4 linked regions of the Homo sapiens genome follow. The protein of the gene in region 4 interacts with the protein of the main gene of each other region in a pairwise test. Each region holds a gene or a part of one and is shown on either strand. Other genes may lie near its edges.

Evidence for each region.
Region 1: the proteins of ABHD17C (region 4) and PEX26 interact in binary tests that used the Homo sapiens proteins (3 or more experiments, as listed by UniProt).
Region 2: the proteins of ABHD17C (region 4) and A2M interact in binary tests that used the Homo sapiens proteins (3 or more experiments, as listed by UniProt).
Region 3: the proteins of ABHD17C (region 4) and PHYH interact in binary tests that used the Homo sapiens proteins (3 or more experiments, as listed by UniProt).

What each region holds. Positions count from the first base shown.
Region 1 is NC_000022.11:18,080,966-18,087,995, reverse strand, and holds part of PEX26 (peroxisome assembly protein 26), read right to left. Parts: intron 4,560-7,030; coding exon 4,264-4,559; intron 2,885-4,263; coding exon 2,738-2,884; intron 25-2,737; coding exon 1-24. UniProt on the Homo sapiens protein: Peroxisomal docking factor that anchors PEX1 and PEX6 to peroxisome membranes. PEX26 is therefore required for the formation of the PEX1-PEX6 AAA ATPase complex, a complex that mediates the extraction of the PEX5 receptor from peroxisomal membrane.
Region 2 is NC_000012.12:9,098,897-9,105,926, reverse strand, and holds part of A2M (alpha-2-macroglobulin isoform a precursor), read left to right. Parts: intron 1-1,526; coding exon 1,527-1,688; intron 1,689-4,252; coding exon 4,253-4,480; intron 4,481-4,719; coding exon 4,720-4,783; intron 4,784-6,403; coding exon 6,404-6,546; intron 6,547-7,030. UniProt on the Homo sapiens protein: Is able to inhibit all four classes of proteinases by a unique 'trapping' mechanism. This protein has a peptide stretch, called the 'bait region' which contains specific cleavage sites for different proteinases.
Region 3 is NC_000010.11:13,277,269-13,283,064, reverse strand, and holds the end of PHYH (phytanoyl-CoA dioxygenase, peroxisomal isoform a precursor), read left to right. Parts: intron 1-1,954; coding exon 1,955-2,089; intron 2,090-4,710; coding exon 4,711-4,764; 3' UTR 4,765-5,266; downstream 5,267-5,796. UniProt on the Homo sapiens protein: Catalyzes the 2-hydroxylation of not only racemic phytanoyl-CoA and the isomers of 3-methylhexadecanoyl-CoA, but also a variety of other mono-branched 3-methylacyl-CoA esters (with a chain length of at least seven carbon atoms) and straight-chain acyl-CoA esters (with a chain length longer than four carbon atoms).
Region 4 is NC_000015.10:80,691,371-80,698,339, reverse strand, and holds the start of ABHD17C (alpha/beta hydrolase domain-containing protein 17C), read right to left. Parts: upstream 3,031-6,969; 5' UTR 2,911-3,030; coding exon 2,321-2,910; intron 1-2,320. UniProt on the Homo sapiens protein: Hydrolyzes fatty acids from S-acylated cysteine residues in proteins. Has depalmitoylating activity towards NRAS and DLG4/PSD95.

The sequences.
Region 1 (7,030 bases), on a different chromosome or scaffold from region 4:
GGAAGTGCAGGGAGGAAGGGGAAGCTGCAGGGCAGAGGGAGACTACAGTGAACGTCCCACCCCTCTCACCTGTCACTCTGCCATCTCCCACCCTGGGAGACTCCACTACCAATTACACATAGTTGGTTTTGTTTTGTTTTTTTTAGAGACAGGGTCTCGCTCTGTCACCTAGGCTAGAGTACAGTGCAGTCTGTGTTCAGCTCACTGCAGCCTCAATCTCTGGGGCTCATGCGATCCTCAGCCTGCAGGTGCAGGTTCTCCTCCCCCACCATCATCACTCCAATGAGTCGGGCCTGCTGCTGAGGGTCAGGGCCACTGGGCCAGGCCCTTCTGAAGCAGCCTTGGAAAGAGCAGGCTCAAATGTCCTCATGCCATCCCCACTAGGAGACCAGGGTTTACGAGACTAAAGGGCTTACGGGAACCATAAAGAATCATAAAGAGTTTCTAAATCTGTATCAGTCAGGAGGTGGCCAGGGATGAACGCTGATGATACTGAGCATTCCGAGCGCTAACTCGTGACTTCTTTGTAAAGCAAACAGAGTCGTCCACAGGGGATCCCTGCTCAGCATTCAGCAGACGGGTTAGAAGGACAACTCTGAGCTATGTGACGGAAACCTCGCTGGCCAGGCATGATGGCTTGTGCCTATAATCCCAGCACTGTGGGAGGCTGAGGTGAGAGGATCACTTAAGGCCAGAAGTTGGAGACCAGCCTGGCAAACATGGCGAAACCCCGTCTCTACTAAAAATACAAAATGTAGCCTGGCATGGTGGTGTGTGCCTGTAATCCCAGCTACTTGGGATACTGAGGCAGGAGAATCGCTTGAACCCAGGAGGCGGAGGTTGCAGTAAGCCGAGATCACGCCACTGCAACCTGGGCAACAGAGCAAGACTCTGTCTCAAAAATAAAAATAAAAAATTAGCCGGGCATGGAGGCACATGCCTGTAGTCCCAGTTACTTGGGAGGCTGAGGAGAGAAGATCGCTTGAGCCTAGGAGGCAGAGGTTGCAGTGAGCCAAGATCACGCCGGTGCACTCCAGCCTGGGCAACAGAGAAAGACCCAGTATCAAAAACTAAATAAATAAAATAAAATAAAAATAAAAATAAATAAATAAATATTTTAAAAAAGCTCACTGAATAAGAGAAAGAGAAATGGGGAAACAGGGAGAATCTAAAGACTAAGTTAACAAATGGCACTTCTCAAAATAGACAAACCATTTGAAGGGACCAGTATAAGGGTTTCTGATTTCCTCTTAAATTTTGAAACTTATTTAATCATATTCTAAGTCTAAATTCATGAGAAGAGTAGAGATTAGAACATAACTCACACTGAGTAACACAAAAAAATCTAAAAGAGCGAGTGCCAAGTTTGGCTTCATGCACCTGAGGGGTCAATCCTCAGGAAATAACTGGGGTTGTTCCCAAATATCACTTAGGGAGCTCATTCCTTCTTCACAGCGAGGCAGAAAACAGAATAATCACCCAAATGTTCAATAATAGGGGTTGTTAAATTACTTAGGGGCATTCCTGTGAACTGGAATAGTTAGCGATTTAAGGCCATGCTTGAAAGCATATGTGTGACATGTAACTGCCTACAATCTCTATATCCATAGAAAAAGACTGAAAGCACAGCAGAGTAGCAGATTTCTATGCCCTTCTTTATACTTTTCTCTATTTTCCACATTTTTTTTTCTTTTTTGAGACAGAGTTTCGCTCTTGTAGCCCAGGCCAGAGGGCAACAGTGCAATCTTGGCTCACTGCAACCTCCGCCTCCTGGGTTCAAGCAATGCTCCCTGCCTCACCCTCCCCAGTTGCTGGGATTACAGGCACGCACCACCACACCTGGCTAATTTTTGTATTTTTAGTAGAGACGGGGTTTCACCATATTGGCCAGGCTGTTCTCGAACTCCTGACCTCAGGTGATCCACCCTCCTTGGCCTCCCATAGTGCTGGGATTACAGGTGTGAGCCACCATGTCCGGCCTATTTTCCACATTTTCTAAAATGTATGAGTTTTTCATTTACAACTTGCTTTGAATTAACACTTCATGAGACATTAATACTTGAATTAACACTTTTGTAGATATTCTGATGAGCGGAAGTTTTTTTGTTTTTTGTTTTTTGTTTTGAGACAGAGTCTCGCTCTATTGCCCAGGCTGGAGTGCAGCAGTGCGATCTTGGCTCACTGCAACCTCCGCCTCCCGGGTTCAAGCTATTCTCCTGCCTCAACCTCCCAAGTAGCTGGGACTACAGGCATGTGCCACTACACCTGGCTAATTTTTTTTGTATCTTTAGTAGAGATGGGGCTTTACCATGTTGGCCAGGCTGGTCTCGATTTCCTGACCTTGTGATCTGCCTGCCTTGGCCTCCCAAAGTGCTGGGATTACAGGCGTGAGCCACCGTGCCTGGCCAAGAGGAAGTTTTTTTAAATTCTGAGGTTCTAGTCAGAGTTCAGCCCTAGAAAAAGTGGAGGACTATGACTCAGTCCATGTTCAGGAGTCAGCAGGGCCAAGTGGACTTTCTCCTGGCTGCTCTCATAGACTCCAGGACTGGCCTCTCCTTATGGGTGGGGCTGGCTCATGCCCAGTCTAGCAATTCCTCCTTGTGGAACAGACTCAGGGGAAATGTCATAGGAGAGACTCCCCTCCCCAGTAGGACTCTGACAAACACCCACTCCCACAGGCCCAGCCCTGGCAACAACCCCTTCCCAGGAAGGACAGGGGAGAGTCTCCACCTCTTACCTGGATCAAATCTCACCACCAGGAGACAGAGGATCAAGGCAGCCAGGAGACTCTTTTTGAAGGGCAGAGAAAAGAAGTGGCTCACCGCAGAGTCCCAAAGCTGGCGAACCAACATCGGTAGTGACAGGAACTTGTGGGAGACAGAGCCTGGCCAGGGAGACAGAGCACAGCTTCAGGGATGTCATGGGAATCAGCTTCCCTGACCCCGACCTCTGTGCTTGCTTCTAAGACCTGAGCAGGCCAGGCGCAGTGGCTCATGCCTGTAATCCCAGCACTTTGGGAGGCTGAGGCAGGTGGATCACAAGGTCAGGAGATCGAGACCATCCTGGCTAACATGGTGAAACCCCGTCTCTACTAAAAATACAAAAATTAGCCAGGCGTGGTGGTGTGCGCCTGTAGTCCCAGCTACTTGGGAGCCTGAGGCACGAGAATCACTTGAATCTGGGAGGTGGAGGCTGCAGTGAGCCAAGATCGTGCCATTGCACTCCAGCTTGGGCAACAAGAGCAAAACTCCGTCTCAAAAAAAAAAAAAAAAGAGTTTAGTAAAAGGGTATTAGGTATTGGCTAAAGCCTTCATTCCTTAACTGCACATACTCTTGCAAATCTCATGAATATAAATTGTTTTCCTCGTGTTTATTACTTATTTTGACTATATATTATTTACTATATTGAATGCATCTTTGTAAAAGTTTTTTAAAACCTTTCAGAACCTTTCAGGCCAGGCGCAGTGGCTCATGCCAGTAATCCCAGCACTTTGGGAGGCCAAGGCAGCCAGATCACGAGGTCAGGAGATTGAGACCATCCTGGCTAACACGGTGAAACCCCGTCTCTACTAAAAATACAAAAATTAGCCAGGTGTGGTGGCGGGCACCTGTAGTCCCAGCTACTCAGGAGGCTGAGGCAGGAGAATGGCGTGAACCTGAGAGGTGCAGCTTGCAGTGAGCGGAGATCGCATCACTGCATTCCCGCTTGGGCGACAGAGCGAGACTCCGTCTCAAACAAAAAAAAAAAAAAAAAAAAAGAGAGAGAGATGGTGACTTTCTGTCCTTGAAGTATTCACAACTAGACTAGATCATCACTCAAGGAAAAGGGCGGAAAAGATTCAGCGACCAGGGAAAGGGTCTGCAAATTAGTTTCTGATATTCCTTTGGCTATCCCAGCAGATCTCAGCTGTGTCTGTATTGGGGCCAGCATTTAAAGGAGGAAGGACATCCCACCCAGACCAGTATGGTGGAAGCAAGAGACCTCATCAGAGGACTCCAATGGGAAAATGACTTTCAAAAGACAAGTCAAGGTCCCAAGACCCAGCAACACCTTCCCATGTGGAGATTCTCCTTCCACTGCCAACTTCAGAGGGTCTGGCCTTCACTTTGTGAAGCAAATCAACAGGCCTCCTATTCTGTGACTCAAGAGTTATTCATACAAAGAACTGCTTCTAAGCTCGCAGGAGTTTCACGACAGACCCCGAGGTACAGTGCAAGCCCGCAAGTCCACTTTACAGAGGTCGCAGAGGGATAATGTCCTACCTTCCAGGTTTGGCTTCTGGGCCTCCTCAGAGCCTGAGTGTTCCTGTTTCTGCTGCTGCCTCGCTGTGTGAATGGCCTGAAGTACATCCAGTCGCCGCTCCTCACCAAAGGCTGCAGAGCCCACCACTAGCTCCTCAGCCTCCGATAAGCAGCCCAGAGGCAGCAGCACCCGCTGCACGTGAAATTCTGCCAAGGCTCCATATTCTGGAAGGTTTTGATTGGCTGGGTCTTGGAGCCAGGCACCCACCACATCCAGCACAGCTCCAGGCTCTTGCATTTTGCTGTATAAAAGAATGCTGCAGTCCCCAAAAAACCCAATCCCAACAAAAGAAGAGTCAGTGCTCAATGATTGGTTCATTTCCCATGACCACTATGCTTCTCCTATCCAGCCCCTCCTCACTGTGTCCTCGAGCCCTTTCCGATGAAATGATGATGCTCATGGGAATTCCCCACGACACACCCATCACTAACAGCATAATCAATGGGAAAAGCTGAAAGCCTTTCCTCTAAGATCAGGAGCAAGACAAAGATGCCTACTTTGACCGTTTTTATTCAACATAGTACTGGAGGTCATAGCCAGAGCAATCGGGCAACAGAAAGAAATAAAAGGTATCCAAATTGGAAAGGAGGAAGTCAAGTTATCCCTGTTTGCAGACAGAACTAATAAACGGATTCAGTAAAGTTGTGGGATACAAAAATCAATGTACAAAAAACAGCGTTTCTATACGTGACAGTGAACCATTGGAAAAGAGATCAAGAAAACAATTCGATTTACAATAGCTACCAAAAAAATAAGATACCTAGGAATAAATTAAACCAAGCTGGCAAAAGATCTCTACACTGAAAACTATAAAACATTGATGAAAGAAGTTGAAGGGGACACACAAAAAATGGAAAGATATCCCGTGTTCATTCACAAATTGGAAGAATATTATTAAAATACCCAAAGCAATTTACAGATTTAATGCAATCCCTATCAAAACACCAATGGCATTCTTCAGAAACAGAAAAAACAATCCTGAAATTCGTATGGAACCACAAAAGACCCCAAATGGCTAAAGCAGTTGTGAGCAAAAAGAACAAAGCTGGAGGTATCATATTACCTGACTTCAAACCATACTACACAAAGCTATAACAGTAACCATAACAGCATGTTATGGCATAAAAACAGACAAAATAGAACAGAACAGAGAGCCCAGAAATAAATTCATGCACCTACAGCCAACTGATTTTCAACAAAGGTGCCAAGAACACACACAGGGGAAAAGACAGTCTCTTTAATAAATGGTGCTGGGAAAATCGGATATCCATATGCAGGAGACCAGACCCCTACCTTTCCCCACATACAAAAATTAACTCAAAATGGATTCAAGACTTAAATGTAAAATCCAAAACCATGAAACTACTAGAAGAAAGCACAGGAGAAATGCCTCACAACACTGGGCTGAGCAAGTGTTTTTTTCAGTAAGACCTTAAAAGCACTGGTAACAAAAGCAAAAATGGACAAATGAAATGACATCAAACTAAAAACTTCTGCACAGCAAAGGAAGCAATTAAGAGTGAAGAAACAACCTACAGAATGGGAGAAAATATTTGCAAACTATCCATCTGACAAAGCGTTAATATCCAGAATATATCAGGAACTTAACAGCAGAAAAAAAAAAAAAAAACCTGATTCAAAAGGGAAAAAGACCTCAACAGACATTTCTCAGAAGACGACGTACCATGGCCAACAGGTATATGAAAAAATGCTCAACACTACTAATCATCAGGGAAATGCCAATCAAAACCACAATGAGACACTACCTCGCTCCAGTTAGAACAGCTCTTATCAAAAAGACAAAAGAAAACGAGTGTTGGTGCGGGTGAGGATGTGGAGAAAGGCAGCACTTACACACTGTTGGTGGGACTGTAAATTAGTACAGCCATTATGGAAAACAGAATGCAGGTTCCTTTAAAAAATTCAAAATAGGAAAGACGGCACTTCCTTTTTGTAAGTGGTGGCAAGTGCTGAGAGAATGCCATGAAGGCCTGGGGCACACTGAGAGAGTATTTGCTGCCTGCCCACCCCCAAATGCCACATGCTGCCCCTCTACTGCCAGCAAATCTCTGCACCTAAGCAAGTTGTGCCAAGTCCCGCTTCTGGTACTGCCACCGGCCGACAGTCAAGCAGTTCCACAATTCCAAGATCAAGTTCCTGCTGCCCTACCAGGTCCTGTGTCTTCAGCACAAGCCACACTCCAACATCAAGAGTCCCAACACCTTCTTCTAGGTACAGGGAACTGTCACCGGGTGTCATCAAAATAAACTTAAGAATGGCCAGGTGAAAAAAATAAAAATAGAACTACCACATGATCTAGCAATCCATTATCTCCCCTGTTTAATGCAGCACTATTCACAACAGCCAAGATATGGAATCAACCTAAGTGTCCAACAACAGATGAATGGATAATGTGTGTGTGTGTGTGTGTGTGTGTGTGTGTGTGTATATGTGTACATATATGTATATTATGTGTATATATGTGTTTATATATGTGTATATATATACACACACGCATATATATATATATATATATATATAATGGAATACTATATAGCCATAAAAAAGAATGAAATCTTGTCATTCATGACAACACAGGTGGACCTGGGGGACATCATGTTAAGTGAAATAAGCCAGGCACAGAAAGATAAATACTACATGATTTCACTCATGTGAATCTTTAAAAAAAAAAAAAAGTTGATATCATAGAAGCAGACGGTAGAACGG
Region 2 (7,030 bases), on a different chromosome or scaffold from region 4:
AGGCAGTCTCAGGTTTTTATGACATTTTCTCACAAGAATCTCAAAATTCATGCTGACCAGTTTCATTACGATGCTAACACTAACTTTGTATGGAAACAGGTGGGTAGGTGGTTTTAATTTTTATTTTGAAGTATTAAAGATTCTACAATAATGTTTATTTCATGGATAGTATATTTACACTATTTTTCTATAACAAGTATATTTCTAAAACAGTGAACATGGGGTAAAACACTGCTATTTAAGGTTCTCAGATTTTTGAATTATGAATTTTCATGTTATCTACCAAAAAAATCTTCTCTTACAATTTTTCTGTTGTCAGCAGATGTGCAAATGGATCTTTATGACTCTAGAAGTCTGAGATCACAGTTACATGTGCCTCAATGTGTATTTACTGTGTATCATTTTCTTAATGTAAATGTTACAGGATTTCAGCTATGAAGGGTGTAAAAGAGGCATAGACTCAACAAAGTGGAGTACATTCTAGAAGGCTTGGTTATGTCATGACACCAAAATGTATTCAACTTCCTAAAATGAAAGTGTAGCTCATTTGTAAATTTCTCAGAAAGATAGTGTACTTTGTAAGTACATTTTATTGCTGTTAAATATCCTATTTGTCATAAGACTCTCTAGCTAGAAGAAAATCAGAATTATGTGCCTATTCTTGTCTTTGTACATGCAGCCAACATTTCACTGGCAAACTTAGATTTTGTAAATCAATTATGAGTACTGATGGGGGTCAGCCTATTGTTCTTCCTGCTACCAACTGTAGCTTATACTGAAAAAGAATTGCCACCTTTACAATCTGAACTGGACTACTCAACTGCCAATACAATATTAGCAGTAAATTAGATTTGGCAACTTATTTAATACTGTGTGCCTCTTTTCAATTTTATATTTTTCACATGGGAAGTGTGTCATAAAATCTGCCTACCTTCCAAAAGGCTGAAGATCTAGGTTGAGAAGCAGAGACCATGTCTAAGGCAACTGGAGAAACACACAGGACAATGTATTGGCAATTGTTTACTTGTGCACTTATGAGACTTCAGACACTAATCTATAGGAAGTTAATGGTCCACTCCAAAATAGGTGTTTGGGGCACAAATAAATTTAGTTAATAGATTAATAGATTAAAATATTTCATTATCATATTACTCTAGTGCTCTGTGACTCTCTAAGAGTTATATATAATAATACACAGCACTTCCAAAATATCTAGAAGACATTTTTCAGGTCACTCTTGTTATTATCCCTATCACTCTCTATCCCTTCACACTGCTCTGTTTTTCTTCTTAGGATTGATTACTACTAAATTAGTGTATGTTATGTATATATTTATTTAGCATCTATCTCTTTCACTAGACAGTAAGCTCTGTGATGGAAGAAACTTCGTTTTTTTTCACTGCTGTGTCCTCAGTGCCTGGAACCATGTTCAACATAGAGGAGGCACTAAAAAATGTGATAAATGAATATGTTTGGTGCCTATTAGTTATTACCAATATAACTAATCCACAGCTTTTAATCTTCAGGTGCGCCTAGTAGATGGGAAAGGCGTCCCTATACCAAATAAAGTCATATTCATCAGAGGAAATGAAGCAAACTATTACTCCAATGCTACCACGGATGAGCATGGCCTTGTACAGTTCTCTATCAACACCACCAATGTTATGGGTACCTCTCTTACTGTTAGGGTAAGTTTGGAAAGAAATTACCAATGACATGAAGTAGCCTTGGAAACAAGGTTGCAACCTAAGGGTGAGAAAATTTCCAAACTGTGTCTAGTTCTATGGAGAGAAAAAAACTAGCAATTAGAAACCGATTGAAGGTTAACTTTTTTAAAGTTTATGAAAAGAAGGCAGTATATTGTGATTAAAAGTGCGGGTTAGACTTTAGCAGTGTTGCTGGGAACGTAAAATGGCGGAGCCACTATGAAAAACAGTATAGTAGTTCCTGAAAAAATTAAAAAATAGAATTACCAAATGATCCAGTAATCCTACTTCTGGACATATATTCAAAAGAATCGAAAACGGGGTCTCAAAGAGCTATTTGCACACCCGTGTTCATAGCCGCACTATTCACAATAGCTGAGAGATCGAGGCTACCCAAATGTCCATCAAGGGATGAACAGGTAAACAAAATGTGGTATATAAATACAACAGAATATTATGCAGCCTGAGAAGGGAAGAAAATCCTGTCACATGCTACAGCATGAATGATCCTTGAGGACGTTATGGTAAGTGAAATAAGCTAGTCACAAAAAGACCAATACTGTATGATTCACGTACATGGGGTTTCTAAAGTAGTCAAAGTCATAGAAACAGAAAACAGGATGGTGGTTGCCAAGGGCTAGGGAAAGAGAGAAATGGGGAATTCCTCTTATTGGTATTCAGGTTTAGTTTTACAAGATGAAAAGTTCTGGAGATCTGTTGCACAACAGATATACTTAATACTACCAAACTGTACACTAAAGAATAATGAAGATGGTAATTTTATGTTGTGTGTGTGTGTGTGTTTATAATAACTTTTTTGAAAAGTGTGAATTCCAGAATCTGAATCAGATAAAGTGGTTAAAAATACTGGCTCAACCCTATTTTAAGGAATTAACTAAAACCTCTGTGCTTCATTTCCTTATCTGTAAAATGATTGCAATACTAACACCTGACTCTTGGGGTGGTTGTGAAGATTAAGTGAAATCATACATGTTGAATCACTTAGTAAGCCCCCTTTAACTGTTAGATACTTTTACTATAAAAGCCAATTCTAACATAATTAGCATTTAGTTTTAAATATATATACTCCAAAAATTATTACCTTACTTTATTTTGTCTTGCTATTCTAATTTTCTCCAGATGACCTGTTCATACCAATATAAGTTATTCGGTATAGCATGCAGTCCTCTATTCATCAAGAGAGATGTAGACATGTCTATAGATACATGGATATACAATACATATTTAATATATATTACATAATCATGGTAATGGAAAACGCCTGCCTCTTTAGAGTTTTACCTTGTTATAGAGAAATAAATAATACATTTTATTTATTTAGCTTTAATAGATGGCATAAAAGCACCTCCCTCTAATTTGAATGTTTACTCATTTCAAAAAGTGTCTTGAATGCTTTCCACGTGCCAGCACTGTGCTAGTCTTGACAATGAAATTATTATTTCTACCTGTTCCCTGTTTGGGGTGATCATATATGTGTTGTCACCAAAATATACATTAAGATATGAACAAAATGTTTTGCTCAAGGATTCACTAGTGCTATTGGGAGCTGGGGATGAAGGTAGAGGAAGCCTGAAAGGAGCTAAGGAATAACTTCTACAGGAAGAAAAGTTGGAAATATAACCCAAATAGGGCCTCTGAGGTATTAGAATCCAGATTGCAGGGAGCATTAAAAATAGTCAGCCTAGGCCAGGCACGGTAGCTCACGCCTGTAATCCCAGCACTTTGGGAGGCTGAGGTGGGTGGATTGCGTGAGGCCAGGAGATCGAGACGAGCCTAGGCAACGTGGTGAAACCCTGTCTCTACAAAATATACAAAAAATTAGCTGGGTGGGGTGGCATGCACCTGTAGTCCTAGCAACTCAGGAGGCTGACTGGGAGGATCACTTGAGCCCCAGAGGCAGAGATTGCACTGAGCCAAGATTGTGCCACTGTACTCCAGCATGGGCGCCAGAGCAAAACCCTGTCTCAAAAAAATAATAATAATAGCAATCAGCCTAAGATAGCCCAGAAGAGGTAGACTTCAGCTAATTCATCAGCTCAGCTCTTAAACCAATGCTTTCTACCAATGTCTTCTCAGACCCCTAAGGTTACAATATTTTATTTATTCATAATACCCATTCAAAATCCACCCTAAAAGAGGCAGCTGCTTTCTGAAAGCACAGTTCTTCCATTTCTAGAGATTATTTACTCTCCTCAATGAAGTTTCATAGCTCCAGTGTCTCTAATTGCACAGGTAAAGCAGTCAAAGAAATTTCAAGCAAGCTAATCAGAGCAAAGGATGCCTCCTTTTATGCTCTTAAGAAATATAAATCTCAATCCCAGGAGGCTCTGCAGTGTAAAGTCACAAAGCATGCCTACATTTGAAGCAGAGAAACAAAATCAGGGGTCCTTCTCCCACTTTTCATTGTGGAACAAAAGATTTCTAGCTACTAGTTAAGGTAGGACAGTAAACTTACGTAGTTTTGTGAGAACATTAATCTTTATGACGTATAATCTAAAAATAATATAATTTTTCTAATTCATTAGGTCAATTACAAGGATCGTAGTCCCTGTTACGGCTACCAGTGGGTGTCAGAAGAACACGAAGAGGCACATCACACTGCTTATCTTGTGTTCTCCCCAAGCAAGAGCTTTGTCCACCTTGAGCCCATGTCTCATGAACTACCCTGTGGCCATACTCAGACAGTCCAGGCACATTATATTCTGAATGGAGGCACCCTGCTGGGGCTGAAGAAGCTCTCCTTCTATTATCTGGTGAGAAGGGAGGTTACTGCGTTGACTTCACTGTAGACAAAAGCTCTCTGTGGAGCAAGTAATCATGAAGCTCTTTAGATGTCATTACTTCAACTTCTTATCCATGTTCCTTTTGAAAGTTTGATTTCTCTTGAGGTGAATTATTGCCGGCAGGGACTCAATAAAACAAGTATATTGAAGTGAGACTGAAGCGTGTTCTCTCTGGCACATTTAATTTCTTTTTATTTCCTTTTTTGCAGATAATGGCAAAGGGAGGCATTGTCCGAACTGGGACTCATGGACTGCTTGTGAAGCAGGAAGACAGTGAGTATTTCCATCATCTCTGCATTGCTGCCCCATTCTGACCCATTCAGCCTTACACCACGGAAGTATCAGAATACTTTCCCTTTTTTTCCATAGGTTTTTGGGGGAACAGGTGGTGTTTGGTCACATGAATGAATAAATTCTTTGGTAGTGATTTCCGAGATTTTGGTGCACCCATCACCCGAGCAGTATACATTGTACCCAATTTGCAGTCTTTTATCCCTCACCCCCTTCCACCCTTCCCCCTGAATCCACAAAGTCCATTGTATCATTCTTATGCCTTTGCATCCTCATAACTTAGCTCCCACTTCCTAATAGCTTAGCTGCCACTTCCTAATAGCTTAGCTCCTACTTCTGAGTGAGAAGATATGATGTTTGGTTTTCCATTCCTGAGCTGGGAATATCAGGAATACTTTCAAGTAACGAGAGACCATTTCCATCTAATATTAATTAAAAGAAAGTTGAGGGAGGGAAAACAATAATGGTTTTTTTCTCACCCTTTATCAAATATGTGTTGTCTTTTTTTTCAGCCTATTTTCTTTGCGTTATTTAAAATATTGGTGTGGGCCAGCTATGATGGCTTACGCCTGTAATCCCAGTACTTTGGGAGAACGGGATGGGAGGATCTCTTGAGGTCAGGAGTTTGAGACCAGCCTGGTCAACATAGTGAGACCCCATCTCTATAAAAGTAAATAAATAAATAAATAAATAAATAAGAACAAAGGGGGAAAAATAAAATACATAAAATATTGTTGTGTATAATCTATGCTTATTCCAGATTTTTAAACCATAAATATTCTTGAACCTCTTCTCAAAATGAGAATTGTGTTAGAGAATGGGGTGGAGAAAATGTACGATTTCAAGGTATGTTGTATATACCAGGTCTTGTGCTGAGTCATTTATGTCATTTATATTATTATAAATATCTTTTTTCCCTTTCAAGATAGTTATGATTTATGAAGCATTAAATTGGGTACTTCTACCGACTGAAGCGGACTCTTGCCATGAGCAAATATGTCATAATATAAACCTTTGAAGGTTGCTCCTAGTCTAGTAGACTCTAAAAGATAACTTGCTAGAAAAGTATCAGTAATCTACTCTCTCATTAGTTCTTGTAGCAACACAGAAGCACCATAGCAGACTGAAGGAAACTTAATGCAACCTCTAAAGAATCTACATAGGCATCAAAAAATAACTTCTGAAGGAGCATGGTGTTCCTCTTATGGAGAAAGAACCAAATATTGGCTCATAGAAGGTTAAAGAGCATGTAGCATGAATACAATGTGTTGAACTCTTACTCTTACATCTCATAACTTCAGGTTCTATTTCCCTCTTCTAGTATGAGGCCTAGATCAAATGGTAGTGAATTGGATGTCTTCATACCCTTAACTAGCATCAGAACATTAGGTGGGTGAGCTGAAGCTTAAAGCTGGTGAAAAATCAACAGAGTATATGATTTATGAGAGGAGAGAGGGCTTTGATAGGGTTTTTTTCTAAAGCTAGAGTCCTTAGAGGTAATCATCCATTTGTTACATCTACTGTTTATTATGTCTGTTACATCTACTAATGGAAATAGTCATTAACCTATGATGGCTTCCTCTCATTCTCTTTGTGCCCCAGTGAAGGGCCATTTTTCCATCTCAATCCCTGTGAAGTCAGACATTGCTCCTGTCGCTCGGTTGCTCATCTATGCTGTTTTACCTACCGGGGACGTGATTGGGGATTCTGCAAAATATGATGTTGAAAATTGTCTGGCCAACAAGGTGTGTGTTTTAGATCATAAAATCTTCAACATGTAAAACTAGAAGTTACTATTGTTATCATTTGTTTTACACATGTGAACATTAGGGCCAAAAGGGTTAAACAAATTCCCCAGAGACATTCAGCAAGGTAGTGGCAGAGTCACACTAAGAAGCAGAATCACTTGATTCCTTATACAAAACTCTCAAACTTCTCCTAGCAGTGCCTCTTACCAATTACACAGTTCAGAGTATGTTATTCCCTTCTTCTATGATGAAACGTTGGGAAATATGTAAGCAAGTTTTTAAGACTACTAAGGAGCCAAAAGAAAAATGCAAGAGCACCTAGACCCATGCATGTCCCACCACAATTAATGAGCACCTTGCCGTGTATCAAAGATAAAAATGGCATTTCATGACTAGTAATTTATAAGAATAATTAGAAATAATTCTACTGGCTCAAGTGATTCTTGAGAATGAAAGAGAAGTGTAGGGAACAAAAAGCTTC
Region 3 (5,796 bases), on a different chromosome or scaffold from region 4:
AGGATCACTTGGGACCAAGAGCTCTAGACCAGTCTGGGCAACATGGCGAGACCCCACTTCTACTAAAAAAGAAAAAATCACTGTTGTCTCCTGAGGCCATGGGTTAGGGGCCAAATTTCGTCTTCCATTCATTCATATTTCCACCAGCCTCATCAGGGTCAGGATTAGGGTGGGACAAGTTGGGGCACTCTCTCCAGGGGTAAAATGTAAGGGGATGCCAAAAAAAGACTCTGCAATCGAGTTTAGTAACATTTTAATGCGAAATTTAAAAAAATCAAAATTAATGCAAAATACCCAATGTATTGGCTGCGCACAATGCCAAAAGTTTAAATAAAAGACACTATTGGACCCCACACTAGCACAACCTTCAGAGCTGTGCAAGTAGCGAGGTGCAGGCACAACGACACAAATCATGTTGTGGGTTTTAATATATAGACTTGGCAATTTTCCTTTTTTCTTTTTTTTTTTTTTTTGAGGTGGAGTCTCACTCTGTTGCCCAGGCTGGATTGCAGTGATGCAATCTCAGCTGACTGCAACCTTGGCCTCCCAGGTTCAAGCAATTCTCCTGCCTCAGCCTCGTGAGTAGCTGAGACTACAGGCACACGCCACTATGCCCAGCTAATTTTTGTATTTTTTAGTAGAGATGGGGTTTCCCCAGGTTGGCCAATCTGGTCTCGAACTCCTGGCCTTGAGTGATCGTCTCACCTTGGCCTCCCAAAATGCTAGGATGACAGATGTGAGCCATCTCGCCTGGCCCAATGTTTTTTAATGCTTTTATTTTAAAACATTTTATTATTTGTTTATATATTTATTTGAGACAGCATCTTGCTCTTTTGCCCAGGCTGGAGTGCAGTGGTGCAATCATAGCTCACTGCATCTTGGAACACTGAGGCTCAAGCCATCCTCCCACCTCAACCTCTCAAGTAGCTGGGACTACAGGCATGCATGACCACACCTGGCTAATTTTATTTTTTCATTTTTTGTACAGACATGGTCTTGCTATGTTGCCCAGGCGAGTCTTGAACTCCTGGCCTCAAGTGATCCTCCTGCCTTGGCCTCCCAGAGTACTGGAATTACAGGCATGAGCCACCGTGCCCAGGCTTAATGACTTTAATGTTCTGGGAAAATATTACTATAATTTCATAAAGATACAGATATAGGGGTGCGTGTTTTCCCTTTGCCTTGGGCTCTGTTACAGTGCCGTATGGCACCAGGGCTTACAGAGGCAATGGAGTTTGTGACTCCACTCCCTAGAAATTTGTTGTTTGGGGCAAAGTAGAAAGTCTTTCTGACAAGTGTGATCACTTGTGACAAAAAAGGTAAGTTTTAACGATTGCCTTGCAGCTTAGATCTGTTTATAACTTTTTCTAAAATAGGGAGAACCAAGCAATTTCATCCTTACCCTCAGAAGGAAGCAAGAGGGGTAATATATGTCACTGGTATTGGCTTTTAAATGTCCTTTTGATTTGAGAGAAGGTGTCTGCATTATTTTCTATCTCAAGGTATTTTTAGTTCTTTTCATAATCTATTGCCACTGAAATAACAATTCATCCCAAATTGGACCAGGTAACTAACTTATGAGATAAACTGCCGTGGAATGCAGTCCTTCTTAAGACTTTGGGATATTCATTCATTAGGAAAATAAAATGCTAAAAAAAAAAAAAACTAAATACCTCTTACTGACATAATTCCATTCCCTCTCCCATATATACCTTTCAAAAATACATGTCACATCTGGTTAACGATCTTTTGAAATTTCTCAATTAACTTCTAGCTGGAAACAAAAACAGGCTTAGTTACAAAGAGATTGACACAGGATGCAATGGACCTGACTTTCCACTTAGAAATCAAATACTGAGTGAAATAAATGACTTTCTAAAAGAAAGACTCCCTGCTTGGTCACTGGTATTCATGGGATGTTTTTCTCCAATATCAATTTGTTCACTTTGCACAGGCAATTTCCTGCCATTTCGCCAGTGCCGATTGCCACTACATTGACGTGAAGGGCACCAGTCAAGAAAACATCGAGAAGGAAGTTGTAGGAATAGCACATAAATTCTTTGGAGCTGAAAATAGCGTGAACTTGAAGGTATGTTTGTATACAATAGCAAGGTAAAAATCTCAGGTTTTTCTTTTCTTCAGATGCTTCATAATTCTCATACCTAGTTTATTTGACAGTATATAGTGCTTGGGTTTAGATTCATTTTAGGGACATCGCTGAGCCCCCACCAAAAATGACAATGGAATTTCCATTTACACTTGTGCCCCCGTGCAGGAGGCTTGAGAACTTCCTGCTGCTTCTTTATGTCTTGGGGCTGTCCAGAGGTGTGCTGGCTGTCCTGTTTCACACAGGACAGTAAAGGAAAACAAAACTACAGATTGAGATGAGAGAAAATCAAAGACAAAACCTTGCCTTCTGGCTGGGCATGGTGGCTCATGCCTGTAAATCCCAACACTTTGGGAAGCCAAAGCAGGAGAATCACTTGAGCTCAGGAGTTGGAGACCAGCCTGAGAAACACAGTGAGACTCCATCTCTACTAAAAAAGAAATAAAAATAAAAATTAGTCAGGTTGGGTGGAGCATAGCTGTAGTCCCAGCTACTCGAAGGCTGAGTTGAAAGGCTCACTTGGAGCTTGAGGTCAAGGCTGCAGTGAGCTGATTGCACTACTGCACTCCAGCCTGGGTGACAGAGTGAGACCATGTGTCAAAAAAAAAGCCTTCTGAAGGGATAGAAGGAAAGTTATAGGTTTGAGATCCAATCATAGGCCATGTTTATTAATATAGAATAGAGTATTTATGGCTGGGCGAGGTGGCTCACGCCTGTAATCCCAGCACTTTGGGAGGCCAAAGCAGGCAGATCACAAGGTCAGGAGATCGAGACCTTCCTGGCCAACATGGTGAAACCCCGTCTCTACTAAAAATACAAAAATTAGCTGGGTCTGGTGGCACATGCCTGTAGTCCCAGCTACTCGGGAGGCTGAGGCAGGAGAATGGTGTGAACCCAGGAGGCGGAGCTTGCAGTGAGCCGAGATCATGCCACTGCACTCCAGCCTGGGCGACAGAGCGAGACTCTGTCTCAACAACAACAAAAGAAGGAATCTTGCTTCTCCCTTTAGAACCTGGAAATGTGTCGCATCTCTGAAAATGCTCTGATTTTGCATTTGCAGGTCCTAGAAATTCTTGTCCTTCCTCACTTTTTGTTCAGTACCTAAAATGCCTATACATTTTGTCAACTGGAGCTTTGAGCTAACATCCTAAATTTTAAGGGAGAACAAATATATGTACATTATGTTTGAGGTTTGTCAAGGTTGTGCTAAATGAATACCTCCCACATTTAGTTTAATTACTCTGTAAGTTATATTTAGAATAACAATATTAACCTCTGCTACATAGTTCTCTGTAAAGTACAAAAGCACATTCATATTCATTTTCTTATTTTCTTCACCAAAACCCGGTGGGGCAGTATAAACTCCATGCTGTCAATGACAAGAAAACAAATCCCAGAGGCTGATCTAAGCTAGCTAAGCGACAAAGCTTGATTTTAGAGTCAGGTCAAATCTGAAAATTATTCTTTCCACCATACCTTGCTGTTTGCTCAAAAATAAACAAGAACCAAGAAATAAGAACATCTAAATTATTTTATTAAGGGCAGAGGGGGAAGAAACCCACCAAACAAAGCAGTAATCCTTGATACCATGTTCACTATTATCATCTCATCAAGAGTAGAACACTCAAAAAGGCTCAGACAAGTAACATAAGAGTCATCAGGCCAGGTGCAGTGGCTCACTCCTGTAATCCCAGCACTTTGGGTGTTTGAGGCGGGTGGATCACCTGAGGTCAGGAGTTTGAGACCAGCCTTACCAACATGGTGAAACCCCGTCTCTACTAAAAATATAAAATTAGCCGGGTGTGGTGGCACATGCCTCTAATCCTAGCTACTTGGGAGGCTGAGGCAGGAGAATCATTTGAACCCAGGAGGCAGAGGTTGCAATGAGCCAAGATGGTACCATTGCACTCCAGCCTGGGCAACAAGAGCAAAATTCCGTCTCAAAAAAAAAAATTATGCAGAAAAATGGCAGTGAACTGTTTGTTCTGTAACCCGACATGACATTGACCCAGTTATGTTAGCTGGCACCAACAAATATCCTGAATAAAACAGAACTGACAGCAGCTGGGGGACCCACTGACTTAATTTAGTTAACACTGTTTTAGAAGTCGGTTAAGTAGACCAGGAGTGGTGGCTCATACCTGTAATCCCAGCACTTGGGAGGCTTTGCAAGGCCAAGGCGGACAGATCACTTGAGGCCAGGAGTTTGAGATCAGTCTGGCCAGTGTAGCGAAACCCTGTCTCTACTGAAAATACAAAAAGTTAGCTGGGCGTGGTGGTGCACACCTGTAATCCCAGCTACTCGGGAGGCTGAGGCAGGAGAGTCGCTTGAACCCGGGAGGCAGAGGTTGCAGTGAGCCGCTGCACTCCAGCCTGGGCAATGGGGTGAGACTGTGTCCCCAAAAAATTTTTAAAAAAGAGTTGAGTAAGTAGTTTAAGTTGAGTTGTTTTGTTTACTAATGAATATAACTTACAGGGATTATTTTCCCTATGTAACCTTTCATAGAAGCTAGAAATCAATTTTGTGTTATGGTGAAATTGAAGGTTAATGGAGGGCAGATTGAAGTGTTCCATAAACCCACTCTGTTTGATATTATTTCCAGGATATTTGGATGTTTCGAGCTCGACTTGTGAAAGGAGAAAGAACCAATCTTTGAAATAGCCATCTGCTATAACTCTTTCAACAGAAAACCAAAACCAAACGAAATGTCTAAGGAAAATGTTTTCTTAATGAGATGATGTAACCTTTTCTATCACTTGTTAAAAGCAGAAAACATGTATCAGGTACTTAATTGCATAGAGTTAGTTTTGCAGCACAATGGTGTTGCTTTAATGGAAAAAAAAAACAGTAAAAGTGAAATATTACTGTTTTAAGGAAAACTAATTTAGGGTGGCAGCCAATAAAGGTGGTTGGTGTCTAATTTAAGTGTTAAATCAATTTCTTTCATTCAGTTAGCTCTTTACCCAAGAAGAAGTGAATGATTTGGAGCTTAGGGTATGTTTTGTATCCCCTTTCTGATAAACCCATTCCCTACCAATTTTATGTCATAAGAGATTTTTTTCCCCCAAATCTAGAACAATGTATAATACATTCACATCTAGTCAAGGGCATAGGAACGGTGTCATGGAGTCCAAATAAAGTGGATATTCCTGCTCGGACAAGGGCTTTCTCCTGTGATTTCTTCAACCCAACCATTCCCTTAACAAGAAGACTTGTTCTTTCCAGTCCTTTCCTCTGTTCCTGAAGAATGAAGACAAGGGCCAGGTGCAGTGGCTCACGCCTGTAATCCTAGCACTTTGGGAGGCCGAGGTGGGTGGATCACCTGAGGTCAGGAGTTCAAGACCAGCCTGGCCAACATGGCAAAACCCCATCTCTCCAAAAATACAAAAAAAAAAAAAAAAAATAGCCGAGCGTGGTGGCATGCACCTGTAATCCCAGCTACTCAGGAGGCTGAGGCAGAAGAATTACTTGAACCTGGGAGGCAGAGGTTGCAGTGAGCTGAGATCACACCACTGCACTCCAGCTTGGGTGACAGAGCAAGACCCTGTCTCAAAAAAAAAAAAAAAGGAATGAAAAATAAATAAATAAAAAGAACGAAGATGAGGGTGACTTCATTTGATGTATCTTATTGGGTAGGGCTGCTGGAAACTTTCCACATTTATGAATGAAGCCTAACCTCCTTCAAGCT
Region 4 (6,969 bases):
GTAATCCCAGCACTTTGGGAGTCCCAGGTGGGCGGATTATGAGGTCAGGAGGTCGAGACCATCCTGGCTAACACGGTGAAACCCCGTCTCTACTAAAAATACAAAAAATTAGCCGGACGCGGTGGCGGGCGCCTGTAGTCCCAGCTACTCGGGAGGCTGAGGTAGGAGAATGGCGTGAACCCGGGAGGTGGAGCTTACAGTGAGCCAAGATGGCGCCACTGCACTCCAGCCTGGGCGACAGAGCAAGACTCCGTCTCAAAAAAAAAAAAAAAAAAAAAGTGAAATAAAACAACATATTCTGCTATGTGTGCTGCCCATAGAAAAATTACTGTTTTGTGAAGCATTGGCTTCAGGTATGTGGATACAGACGTGTATGTGTGCTTGATCAAAACGTAAAATGTGTTTCTTACTGTGAGGTTACAGTCAAAACAGTTTGAAAAGCACAAGACATGAGGATCTATAAGGTTCCTTCAAATTCTAAGCTTCGCATGCAGCCTTCAAATTCTAACCTTTTTTACAGGTGAATAAATTAACTTAGATATGAGTTCTGGTATAACATTAAATAAATCATGGGCAATCTTTAGACATACCATCAGATAATTCAAAGTTATCCGAAACAATTACCCTTAATTCAACTGATACACTATCAGATAATTCAACATTATCCAAAACAACGCCCCTTAATTCAACTAAATATGACCAAAAAAAAAAAAGTTTCCAGGAAATAACTACACTCCACGTAAGCTGTAACACAGACACACCTGTATATTTGGGGCAAAGGGTGAGCCATGTGAAAGGCTTTCATTGTAATGTGGACATGCACACACAGAAGCAATGTTCTATGGAAACTCTTCAATTAAAAAATCTACTCAAGGTAGGATTTTCATGTTTCAAATTTTAAAGATCTAATGCCAACCTTATTTTTAATACCTTTGCCAACAGCAAATTCTAGCAAGCTATAGACTGTGTGTGACACATACTTTTGAAACCCTTTACTGGAACAGGTGGCTTTTAACTACTTACAGACTCTGACCCAATGCATCTGCATATGATACATTCTCATCTGCCTAAGCCACTTTCGAAAAGCTATAATCCCAATGAGGGCATCCCCTTCAGGACTTCAGGAGGGCATAAACATGCAACATAGAGCAAATATTAAGTACTTCCCTGTTGGACAAGCCATTTTCCCAGACAGGCAAGGAGTCACTTAGGAACATATGCGTGAGTACGAATGAAAAAAAAAAATCATTAACGTTGGTGATGTGCATAAGCAAACAGGTTTTAGATAAAAACTATAGAAGGGTCCATGGCGACAATAATGCCCGGTGTACTTCCTCTGGGGACTCTTTCATCTGAAGAAATCAAATCTCATCATAGACATGGCCTCAGGTTATTTTCACCATCACTGCTATGAGGCAGGTCGGAAAGGTCACAGATACCCAAACTGGAGCACAAACAGGTAACCTGACCTGCACATGTATAAGACTTTTGTCTAATAGTGAATAAAAGTCAGGTTTTTGGTTTGCTTGTTATAAAACAACCAGGTCTAACCCCTAAACCATGCCCCCAGTTTGTGCCTGGCTCACAGATGGCCCACCCTAAACACTTTTCAGTCCTTCTGTGAATGCTAATTTAAGGTCAGAGATTTCCCAGCCCCTGCAAGTTTCAAACTTATCCTGGACTGTTATGGAGGCCGTGTGGAAGGTGCCAGGCCCACAGCTACCAGCTAACTTCCTGCCCCACAGTGCCACTACTTTGCCCCACCAGGAGGCAAACTCCCCGCTCCACCTGACGCTCCAGCTGTTTCCAAGGTTGCCCAGACATTGTCCTGCCCGCACTTTACAACCAGAAAGTCTTTTAGAGGCCATCCTGTCTCGCCCACTGACTTTACAGGGAAGGAAACTGAGTCTAGAAACCCATGTGCCTTGCCCAAGGTCACTTCAGCTCGTACAAACGAAACTCGAACCAAGTTGTTTCTTTCTGCCCGGTACTTAAGCACCCACACTCTGCCACTCGCGGTGACCGGAGCCACAAAAGACCCAGCCGGTGGGCCGGCGACACACAGGCGAGCCAAAGCAGGCAAAATTCTCTGAGTCCGAGCTCTCCAGGAACCTGAAGGCTGGCGCGGTTTTTGGAGAGGGTGGGAGCAAGCCAGGGTGGGACAAGAAAAGCGAATTTACGGCGGCCAAGGGGCTCTCCGCTGGCCCTCAGCCCCGGAGGAGGGGCCCCTCTCCTGGCAGGCCGCCCCAGGGGCCCCAAGAGACCCCCACCCCGCCTCCCCACAGCTGGAAGTCAGGCCTGGCGACCCCGGCAGGCTCACCGGGTGCGCAGCGCCTGCCACGCGGCGTCGATGTCGGCGTAGAGGTTCTTCTCGGAGGGCTTGCCCGAGCTGACGCCGTATCCCGAGTAGTCGTAGGAGAAGATGTTGCAGTTGATGCGGGAGCCGAGGCCAATGTAGAAGCTGCACATCTGGCCCAGGTCCACGGCGTTGCCGTGCGAGAAGAGCAGCGTGTAGCGGCTGGAGGGCGCGCAGCGCACGAACATGCAGCCGAGCCGGTTGTCCCGGGCCGTGCGCGAGAAGAAGACCTCGACGGCGTCCAGCTCGCGCTGCGAGTACTGCCAGTCGGCGCGCTCGCTGAGGTGCAGGCTGCACGCACCGGGCCCCGCGCCCGCGCCCTCCTCGGGCTGCTGCGGTGCCGGCTGGGCCGCGGCGGCGGCGGCGGTAGCCTGGGCCGGGGCCGGGGCGGACGCGCCGGCGCCGCGCTGCTCCGGCGCCAGCACCGTGTAGGTGGGCTCGGGCGGCAGGAAGGCCAGCTTGGCGGCGATGCGGCTCGGGCAGGGCGGGCAGCAGAAGAGCCAGCACAGCTCACCCAGCGAGAAGCCGTTCATCCTGGGGCCTGGCTCGGGCATCGGGACGGCCTGGTGCCCGCCGCCGGCCCGGCTGGCTGGCTGGCTGGCTGGCCCGGGAGGACGGAGGACGGACGCGCGGCGAGGGAGCTGGCAGGCGAGCGCGGAGGGCGGCTGCAGCCCGCCCGCCCGGCGGCAGGAGGAGGCGGAGGCGGAGGAGGGCAGGAGGCGGGGCCGGCCCGGCGGGCGCGGCGCTCGGAGCCCGGGCGGGTCAGCGGCGGCCCCGGAACCCAGGCGAGGCGCGGGCGGCCCGGGCCCGCGCGCGGCACACAAAGCCGGCGGCGGCGTCCATGGCCGGCTCGTGCGCGCCGCCCCCCGCTCCCGTTCCCGCTCCCGCACGCCCGCCGCCGCCGCCGCCGCCGCCGCCACTTCCGGGTTACCGCGCGGCGGCGCCGCCGCTGGGACGCGGCGCAGAGCCGGGCATCGGGGCGGGGCGCTGCGGGCAAGGGCGCGGGCACCTTCCCCGGCCTGGGAAGCACCTTCTCGACCTGCGGCCGACGGGGGCTTCCAGGCGGCTCCGGGGCCCGGAGAAGCTGGGTGCCGGGGCTGGGGGCTCTGCGCCCGGACAGCTGGGCCGATCTGCAGAGGGGACCCTGGAGGGGGTGCATGTGTCCCGGGGTGGACCGCTCCCCTCCCCTCCCCCTGGGATTCCCTCCCCCAAATCCAGGTTTCTCCCGTGGATGGAGGTTCTTGGGAGTCTACTGAAAAGGAAACTAAGGGGTGGACAAGAGTTGGAATGTGCCCGAAATATTTGGCTCTCGTGTGTGCTGCTTTCTGAACTGGCTCAGTACCAAAAGTTCTCAGCACCGTAAGGGGTACCGGGGTTGTGGGATAGGGTGGTCATCAGTGTGTTTCTTATTAGGAGAGGCTGTTTCTGTATAGGTAGCAACAGCGTTTCCTTTCTAAGGGCATGGTTTTACCCTTAGTACATTTCTGTATCTATAAAAGTCAGCTGTTAGAACAGGAGGGTACTGTATTTAGCAACAAACCATGTTGAGGTTGTCATTTCTAATCCCACGTGTGGCAGATTTTCCGGTAGTAAGTATATACTAGGTATCGTTTACAGTGTTTGTGTCTCTAGAGTTGTTTTGGGTCCAGGATTTTTCAGTGGTCTTAGTCATGAACGATTCTTATACTGCTTTAAATCTACTGTAATCTTGGCAGCCACCTTTACATGATTTTTCAAATATAACTCTCGGTGCCTTGAAACTGTGCTCTGGTGCCAGTTTCCACAGAGCCTTCTATACTTCCTTTTTCCCGCCTGATTTGGCAGCTGAAGAATTCCCTTTCAGGAACTGACAGGAGATACCCTTCCTGGACTGCCAGCAGGGCAGCTAGAGACTGGGAGGTTGGCACAATCCCTACGCTGGGTCTGTTGTTTTAACTCACAGATGTCCTGAGAATTTTACCTTTCGTTGTGACTTTCCACAGGACGAATATTTTGAGCACCGTCATCTAAATGAATTGCCGATACTGATTTCATTAACCTTCAGGACCTCGCTTTTAATTTTTTCTTTTTTAAGAGACAGGGTCTTACTGTATTGTCCAGGCTGGACTCCCAACTCCTGGGCTCAAATGACCCTCCGGCCTGCCTCCCAAGTAGCTAGGACTACCGGCACATGCCACCTTGCCCAGCTAGGACCTGGGTTTTAAAAGGCCATTTCTTCACTAAAACAATTTTACTTGTTTTTGAACTATTCAAACTTGATTTTTAAAAACCTGGTAACAAAGCCTGTCCAGATTGCATATTTGAAGTCTGTTTTGAAGGTTTTCACACTTGGTGAAACTCTTCACATAAAGCCCAATTCTAGCTTTGCAGGTTTGCATTTCCTTTTTTTTTTTTTTTTTTTTAAAAAAAGAATTTTTCTGCGAAAATCCTTTAAAAAGAAAAAAAAGCTTTATACAGCTGGGCACAGTGACTCACGCCTGTAATCCCACCACTTTGGGAGGCTGAGGAGGGTGGATCACTTCAAGTCAGAAGTTCAAGACCAGCCTGGCCAACATAATGAAACTCCGTCTCTACTGAAAATACAAAAATTAGCCGGCCATGGTGGCGTGCACCTACAATCCCGGCTACTCAGGAGGCTGAGGCACGAGAATCACTTGAAGCTAGGAGGCAGAGGTTACGGTGAGCCGAGATCATGCCACTGCACTCCAGCCTGGGTGACAGAGTGAGACTATGTCTCAAAAAAATAAAAAGGCTTTCTAACTTGCTACACATTGGTATACTTTGGTCACTTTATTGTATTCAGCATTTATGTATGTAATGTTTTTTGTGCTCACAGCATCCACTGTGTTAGGTGCTACAGCTACCAAGGTGAGTAAGATAGTCCCTGCTCTCAGATACCTTACAGTCTAATTAGGGCATCAGCAGAAGATTCAAAACAGTTTTTATGTGCCTTTAAAAAAAATCAAGTCCTCATAAAAGCTAAGAAGATGGTCTTGCGTCCTGATTCAGTGGTGATATTTCTATGGGGAGCTAAGGTTATAGTCGAGTGCATTAGTCCCTAATCTAATTCAGAACAAGAATCAAACTTTGGGAACTGAGATGAAAGGGTATCTAACAGCCCCCTAGTCAGTCTTTCTCAGATACCACTCCTCTCACCTGTCCTTTATAAGAATTGAATAGCCCTTAGTTCATGAAAGGGGGGAATGATGAGAGTCTCAAGTACTCGTCTTCTGTGCTGCTGATGGAAAAGACAGTCTTTATATTTCAGATGGCCTGGCAGCAGTGTTAGCATTGTTAGAAAAATCTAAAAGCTAGATACTTGTTTATTTATACCTGGTCTCATTCCACAAGGGATTTGTGGAGTGTGATTCAGTATAATATAAATACATAAGCAAATAAATAAAAGCCTGGCTTTTGTTTTCATTCTATTACAAGGCTACACAGAGGTGGGCTGAAAGAGCATTTATTCCCCAGGAAAACATGTTGGTTCAGGTTTGTGTAAATATTCAGTTGAGACCCTAAAATTATATGCCGTAGAGTGAAGCTACCAAGCCTTTCTTATCTCATGCCACATATAGCCAGTGGTAGAGTTTCTGTAGCCCACTGACATGAGACGTGCTGCCCAGGGGATAAGAGGTTAAAGATCTCAGCACGTCTCTAACATCTAACATCTTTAACAACAAATGTGTTAGTGTGCCTTGTCATGTTGGTTTGGAAACTTTAACATACAGCACATAAAGAATGCATTTGCCCTATAAAATGTGAAAATTGGGGATTACCAGCTGTCCACTTTGACCTTAAAGCAGCAGTCTCCAACCATTGTGGCACCAGGGACTGGTTTCATGGAAGGCAATTTTTTTCCATGAAAATCCTAGTTAGATTCTCATAAGGAGTGCGCAATCTAGATCCCTCGTATGCACTGTTCACAATAGGGTTTGCACTCCTATGAGAAGCGAATGCTGCCGCTGATTTGACAGGAGGCGGAACTCAGGCAGTAATGCTCACCCACCAGCTACCCACGTCCTGCTATGTGGCCCAGTTCCTAACAGGCCACTGACCAGTACAGGTCCACGGCCCGGGGTTTGGGGACCTCTGCCTTAAATTTCTATGTCATTCTGATCATCCTAGTAGAGAAAGATCTAACTTTGAGTTCAGGTCAGCAAACATATTTACTCTGCTAGGTACTTATCATGAGTCAGTCACTGAGTTGACTTGGGAATGTAAAGGTGGCTAATGCACAGCTCCTCCTGCCCTCAACAAGTGCATTGTATGATCTGTCTCTTAGGTAACTCTGTATCCTGCCAAGCCAGCCAGTATTGATGAACTAAACAATATTCCACATAACTAAATACCCTGATCTCTATTACTTAATATTGGCCCTTTACACACTGAATTTTGGCTTCCACACTAGTCAGCTGGATGTGGAGTTGCTCAAGACCACTTTTATTTGTAAAAGTAGAACCAACTTTTGACCATAAGAGGATACTCATGCTTAAAAACAGAATCTGGTTGTCTTGATGGAATCTAAGGTAATGTTGCCCCATTGTACATTTTTTTAAAAATTTGGGACTGGATACTCAGTGAAATCAGGGATCATGTGTATTTTGTTCATC